Homo sapiens: one gene and its partner. The protein of the gene in region 2 purifies or fractionates together with the protein of the main gene of each other region. This does not show direct contact. Each region holds a gene or a part of one and is shown on either strand. Other genes may lie near its edges.

Region 1 (3,820 bases), on a different chromosome or scaffold from region 2:
TATAGATACAGAAACAGATGAATGACAACCAAATTTACACAGTTCACAAGTGACAAAGCCAGGCAGTTTTAGTTAAAGTTCTTATCCACTATCCCCATCATACATTATGTGTGTGTGTGTGTGTGTGTGTGTGTGTGTGTGTGTGTGTGTATGCATGTAGATGGAAGTTACTGATCAGAAAACAAGCCCCAGTAATGACCCATAAGCTCAATGAATTAAAGATTCATTGGTTGCCTGGGATGTGTCAGGCAGCCAGGTTCTAGACAAGGGGCTGGAGTTACTAAGATATTTAAACCACTGGCCCCTGCCCTCCAAGAGATGACACTCACATAGGAGAAAGTGCATATTTGCATACTGTAAACATTTTTACAATGAGATATCTATGAAGGGCAGAAGTCATACAGAGGAAGAAATAGTTAATCAATGAGTGATAAGAAAAGGTTCTCAGAATGTGTCATCTAAGCAGAATTTTAACTAAATTTGCTCAACAAAGCATGATACAGCGTTTCCAATAGGTAGACCAACATATACCAGAATATGAAGCAAAATCCATATGGCATGGAAACAGAAAGCCAATGTTTCTCTCCTTCCATTAGAAACACATTTTCGACATACTAGAACTAGCCTACCCCTTTTTCCTTTTGTTCATCCAATAACAAATATTTATTAAACCTTATTTTAAGCACTGTATTTAAGTGTAAAGTAGACGGAAAGAATAAAAGGAAACCAATATTTCCTGAGTAGTTATTGCAATGACAGGCATTGGGAGAGGCACTGTTTTAAATCATTGTTAATCACCTGATAGGTAGATGTATTATTCCATTTTTATAGCGAGAAACAGACTCAAAAGGGTTAGATGACGTAGCAGGAAGTTTTATCTAGATCTATCCTGTTCCAGATCCTATACTTCTTCCATCACAGTTATTGGTAATGCAGAGTTACCTTGGCTTGATTATTTTCCCTAGCGTGGATACTCACAAACACGCCATTTCTCTGTGACTAAATATTGCCTGACAGCTGACCAAGAATACAAATTTGGTCTGTCATCAAAGCAGAGAGTGAAGTCAAGTGGCTCACAGGTCTCCAACTTCTGACTTTGACCTTATTATGACTGATTAACTGTCCCCCAATTTAGATATTCCATGCCCCATTGGTTAAACTGCTGGTGGCAGAACCATCATGATCTGCCATCTCCGCTGATCCCTGCCTCAGCTGCAATCAAAGCAATGATCACTGTCAGGCCAGAAGAAGGGGCTTAGCCACTGCCAAGACAGATCCCAGTCCACTCCCAGCCTTCCCGCCCCTGCTGCTCATTCCCCAAAAAGTCAACCTGGGTTTTCCTGGGTGAACAGTGCCCACTGAACAGCTCCTGCTTGCCCATCTCAAGCCCTCTCAGTTGCCACTCCAATCATTTTGGCTGCTGTATTTGGTTTGAGAAAGAGTGGAGAGGACACTTCTTCATAACTCATATTTGACAGAAACCCAGAAATTGTAGGAACAAGCCATGATTGCTGTGATTCTTGCTCTGGTTGGCTAGGGATGCCCTCCCTTCCAGCCAGAGTAATACATACTTGTGGGAGTCATGGAAGACTGAGGAAGCTGGAGTAGAAGGGAACAGGGGCTTTCCTCAGTGGTAAAAGGAAAAGCAACATTTTGGAACTCTAAACAGTTGCTCAGTTGGGCGAATTTCATGCATTCATTCATTCATTTACTAAATGGTTAATGATTGTTCATGTACTGCCTGCCAAGCCCATGCCAGGGTGGTCTGTGGAAGCAGCAGTGACAGCTCCATCTTCACACAGCTCACAGATAGCGGGAGGTGCAGACAAACTCACAGGCAATGGTGGCAGTGGAATGTCAAGAGCCCAGGATACCGAGCCTGCCAGCCTGCCTGCCTGGGTTAAAATCTGAGCTCCACCATGTAAAAGCTGAGCAACCTAGAAAAATGACAACCTCTCTGTGCCTCGATTTTCTCATTATGAGATAAGGATAAAAACGACATCTATCTCATAAAATTGCTGTGAAGATTGCATGATTTAATATGCACAAAGCTCTTAGAAGGATGCCTGGCCCACAAATATGCATTCAGTGCACATTTCTTGCTACAGTTCTGCTAATCCTATAAAACATATGCACTATGATGGATGTGTCTGGGTGCCAGGAGGACACAAAGGAGCACTAACTCATCCAGACCAGAAGCTTCCCAGAGGAGGTGATTCCCAAGGTGAAATCCGAAAGATAAAGGGAGTGAGTTATCCAGGAGAAGAGAAAGGAAAAGCATATTCCAGACATCAGGATAGGACAGTGGAGGCAAAACAGCATATGCTATATATATATGGAATTCACAACACTCTGGTATGACTGATTAGTAAAAAGTAGGAAGGCAGACCAAGAGAAATAAGGAGACATGGTAAGGTGAGTGGGCAATAATGCATGATCTGAAAAATAATAATGCATGGACTTAGTGTGGTTCACATATCAGGAGCTTCTCCAATAGCCAGGCTATGAGGCACTAAAATGAGGAAATATGGTTTCCAAACTTCGCAAATACTTATAGTCCAGCCACAGGGGATATACTGATAAACTCAGCTCAAATGTCACCTCCTCAGAGATGCTTTCTCAACCACCCTTAGTTCCATGAGGACTGCATCATTGTTTAGGCCACTCCTGTATCCCCAGAGCACAGAACATTGTCTGGCTCATAGTAGGTGCTCAAAAGTTTTGTTGAATGAATGAACAAATAAACGTGTAAGGAAGTCAGGCACAGCACTTGCCCACAGGAAGCTTATAAGATGAGCGGCATGCCATTGGGAGTTTGAATGATATATGGAGATCCAAACAGGGCATCAGAGGACTGCTCAGAGGAGTCAGGGAATTAAGAAAAAATTGGGAGCCAGTGAGCCAAGATGTGTTAAAAGCAAGTGATCAAGCTTAGATTGCAGTGTTAGTTAATAGAGCATATGTGTCCCTGCCTGATGCATTACCTTCCCTGCAGTAGTTAGCCTTCTGGGACCCTGAAAAGCATGCAGAAAGGTTGACAGCTTACAATCAATACCATGTTCACTGATGCAGGAAGCAACATTATCACATCCAAGATATTGCCCCCACACCCAGGCTGCAGCACTAAATATTCCCCATAACAAGGCAAAGGGAAGTGACAAGAGCTATTATTCTCAACCCTCCCACTTGGAAACAAGAGGTGAGACAAACCTTCCCCTAGATGTTCTTAGGGAAAGGCAAGACCCCCAAAGAAATCTTTCAGAGCTGAGCACATGCCTAATACAGCAAGACAGGGATGGGAGAAGATTGGCATTTTCATTTGCCTGGGTGTCCACAATATTGCAGGGGAAGCTCTGTGGGCAGCTGGGAAATACAACAATAAATTGGAGGGGGATGAACAATAGGGTCAGTGGGGCTGTGTGCTGAGTGAATGCTGGATTTTATTCTACATGCCCAATTCACTCCAATAAGATAAACTTGACTTCCTCCAGTGTGGCTTTCTTATTTCAGCTTCTCTGACTGTGGCATAATTGAAAGTCATATTTCATCTAGACCATTGGTTTTCAACTCCAAATGCAGGTGGCTTATGAAGACTCAGCCTGAATATATAAAGAGAACAGCAAACAATCATAGTTGCATATTAAAGACAATCTATTTCTCCGTAAAGGAAAGTAAAGTGAGTCATATTACATACAAGCCACAATACAGAACTGATCTGAAATACACTGCGGAATGGCCTTTCAGTCTATGCTGGACTCTAACAGGAAAAAGGCAGAAGGTGGTCAATGGTGCATTTATTTAAACCCCTCATTTCCTCCCT
Region 2 (3,820 bases):
AAGACTATCTTTAAAAATAAATATGTATAGGCCAGACAAGACTGCAATATGACATGCACCACTTACAGTAAGGGTAACACGCATGTGCTCCTGGAATGTATTTCTACTGGTTGCAGTCAAAAATTTCGATGTCTTCCTTTTAAAACATTCTGGCCAGGCGCAGTGGTTCATGTCTGTAATCCCAGCACTTTGGGAAGCTGAGGCAGATGGCTCACTTGAGCCCAGAAGTTCAAGACCAGCCTGGACAACATGGTGAAACCGTCTCTACCAAAAAATACAAAAATTAGCTGGGCACAGTGGCAAGCACGTGTAGTCCCAGCTCCTTGGGAGGCTGAGGTGGGAGGATGGCTTGAGCCAGGGAGGTCAAGGCTGCAATGAGCTATGATGTCACCAGGACACTCCAGCATGGGTGACAGAGTAAGACCGTGTCTCAAAAACAAAAACAAAAATAAAAAAACCTTTCTTGCTCTTGCAGATGTTCCAACCTGTGTAACTTGTGTTCTGCCCTCAGCAGAGTGAGCTGGTAAACTCCTTGAGGTAAGAGCCATGTCTCTAATTTGTCAAGAATTCCAACCATCCCACCACCATCCCCTCCGCAGGGCTGGGCTCAGAGCAGGGTTGGCCTCTAGTGCAAGCTCTTCACAGGCTGGAAAGCAGCCACCAAATCAAAAATCACTATGGAAGGAGAGGAAGGAACCCACCGCTGACGGTGCCAGGCACTGCTCCCAAACGTGTGCTCTGGAGGTCCAAGTTCTCTCCATTTTACAGATGAAGAAATCAAAGCTCAAAGAGGTAAAATTGTCTGGGAGATGGGGGCGGGGGGAGGACCAGGACTGACGTCTTGGTTTGGATGGCCCCTGGTTTTATCACTGCCAGGGTTAGCTCCTGAGCCGCCCTGTCAAATCCCCTAAACGTCCCATGAAGGCCAAGACGACTCACACTGCAAAACATACACACAAAGGGTCGGAAACAGCACAACATTCTTTCCTACCTGCCTTTTTCTGGCTTTCCCAGTCCCACGAGGGAGAGAGGAGAGGGCTGTGCTGGGGGCATCTGGGATCTGTCTTCCTCCTTGTCCAGCCCTTGTCCTTCTCTGCCTCTTTTGAGGCTGACTTCCCCCAGCTCACCACCCTCCTCTCCGAACGCCAGCTAACCGGTTACCCGGGCAACCCAGCTGGGAGGCCGCCAGTTACCACGGCAACCCAGCATGGCCGCCAGGCTGCCTTGCTTAGGAAGGTCAGGGGACCAGCCGGGCTACCGAGCAGCTGGGATGCTGCTGGCAGGACTGGCCCAGGCAGGGGGAGTGGGGTGTGGCGGGGGGGAGGTGGCCTACGTGCCTGAGATAACTAAGTTCCTGCTGTCAGGGGCCACCTTTCCCTTTGACATGTTTCCCATGAAGCAGGCTCCCCCAACTTGGGCATGAACCACAAGCCGTCCTCCCCAGTTCCATCACCCAAGCCGAACCCGACCCCTCCCACCTTCTCTACAGAGTTCCGGTCGCCTCACCTCCAGGAAGGCTTCTCAGGCTGAGCAGCAGCCAGCTGTCATTCAGCCTAACCCCAGGCCCTCTCACCCTCCGCCCTTCCTGAGCATATCCAGGAGTCCACACATATGCAACATGCGTGTGTCAGCGTGCAGATGTGGTCTCTCTGTGAAATATGGTGGTAAAAATCATAAGGAAGAGCTAATATTTTCTAGTACTTACTATGTGCCTAGCATGTTGTAGGTGACTTGTGTGAAGTTTCTCAATTGAGCCATACAACAATCATATTATCCTCACTTCGCAGATAGAGTGCCTGAGACTTAGAGAAGGTGAGGGACTTACTCAAGGCTGCACAGGTACTAACCAGCAGAGACAGGGTGAGGCTGTGTAGGGACCAGCTTCCTGGAATTCCTTCAGCTCCTGCCCTCCCCAAGCTCCTCCCACCAACCAATCCCAGGCCTGGTTTCAAGGTGACATTTTTAACTTTTATTAAGTTATTAAGTTTCACCATGCCCAACATGGTAAAAACTCATCTCTACTAAAAATACAAAAATTAGCCAGGCGTGGTGGTGCATGTCTGTAATCCCAACTACTCAGGAGGCTGAGGCAAGAGAATCGTTTGAACCTGGCAGGCGGAGGTTGCAGTGAGCCGAGATCTCGCCACTGCACTCCAGCCTGGGTGACAGAGTGAGACTTTGTCTCAAAAAAAAAGATTATTTAGGCCAGGTGTGGTGGCTCACACCTGTAACCCCAGCACTTCCGGAGGCCAAGGCAGACAGATCACTTGAGGCCAGGAATTTGAGACCAGCCTGGCCAACATGGTGAAACCCCATCTCTACTAAAAATACCAAAATTAGCCCGGCATGGTGGCGCATGCCTTGTAATCCCAGCTACTCAGGAGGCTGAGGCAGGAGAATTGCTTGAACCTGGGAGGCAGAGGTTGCAGTGAGCCAAGATCGCACCACTGCACTCCAGCCTGGGCCACAGAGCGAGACTCCGTCTCAAAAAAAAAAAGAAAAGAAAAAAGAAAAAAAGACTATCCAGTGCCACATGTTTTCTTCATATTATTTTATTTCATTTACTCCTTGCCGCTGCGGAGACTTCAGTCTCCTAACAGGATAGCTTAGGAAACAGAGACCCAGAGAGGTTAAGTAATTTTCCCAAGCTGAGACCCGGCTTAAGGTTTCTGCCTTGGGGAACCTCCTAGGAGAGTCTATCCTTTTCTTTTTTGGCCACCAACATATGTAGCATATGTCTGTATCATATACAGCATGGTCGTTTGCTCACTCATCTGCTCCCTTACAAGAGCGTGAGTTTAAAAATTTTTTTTTGACCGGTCACAGTGGCTCACGCCTGTAGTCCCAATACTTTGGGAGGCCGAGGCAGGAGGATCACTTGAGCCCAGGAGTTTAAGACTAGCCTGGGCAACAAAGTGAGACTCTGTCTCTACAAAAAATAAAATAATCAGCCAGGTGTGGTGGTGCATGCCTGTGGTCCCAGCTACTCAGGAGGCTGAGGTGGGAGGACTGCATGAGCCTAGGAGGTGGAGACTACAGTGAGCTATGATCATGCCACTGCATTCCAGCCTGGGGGACAGAGTGAGGCCCCATCTCAAAAATAAATAAATCAAAATAAAAATTCATTTTTGCAACCTAGTACCTGCCTGGTACATAAGGAGCATGCAGTAAGTATGTACCCAAAGCAAATGGTAGGGCCAGGCTCCCAAGTTCTACCCACCACTTAATTCCATGCTGTCTCTACCACATCACCCTGTCTCATTCACTCAGCCAATCAAAAAGCAGTTACCAACCATTTTGTGACTGGCTCTGCGTGAAACATCACAGATACAAATAAGACAAATCAGGCCATCTCTTGCCTTGAAGAAGTACAGTGGAGTGAGAGGCAAGGCTGAGGAGAACAGGGAATAAATTCCCCACCACTGCCCTCACCCAAGGCTTTCTCATGAGTGTTTCTCTGTGCCTGCTCCTTGGGGCCTAACCCTCCCATCCAAAGCTTCATATATCCAACCAACATTTGTTGAGCACCTACTATGTGCTAAGTACTGCCCTGTAATCACTCATAGTTGTGGGGAGAGTTGGCAGGATTAGAAGACAATGGAGTCAGGAATTACTGGACAGCAGAGAAGTGACTGAGAAGGTCAGAGTCCAAGAAGCAGTGGCCAGGGCCACCGGGAGCATATGGAGAACTTTAAAGAGCTTTCACATTTGATGTGATCATGGACTTTCAGGTCGCATTGCTTTATATTCACACCTACTTCCTACACCTAACTCATTTGATCCTTGGTGATAAGGGCAGGGTGGGAACTATTATTCCCAT

The links.
Region 1: the proteins of PLEKHA6 (region 2) and PPP2R2B purify together in Homo sapiens (co-immunoprecipitation; one large-scale study listed by IntAct). This does not show direct contact.

What each region holds. Positions count from the first base shown.
Region 1 is NC_000005.10:146,581,590-146,585,409, reverse strand, and holds part of PPP2R2B (serine/threonine-protein phosphatase 2A 55 kDa regulatory subunit B beta isoform), read left to right. Parts: 3' UTR 1-3,820. UniProt on the Homo sapiens protein: The B regulatory subunit might modulate substrate selectivity and catalytic activity, and might also direct the localization of the catalytic enzyme to a particular subcellular compartment.
Region 2 is NC_000001.11:204,349,889-204,353,708, forward strand, and holds part of PLEKHA6 (pleckstrin homology domain-containing family A member 6), read right to left. Parts: intron 1,096-3,820; exon of another isoform or gene 1,054-1,095; coding exon of another isoform or gene 992-1,053; intron 1-991.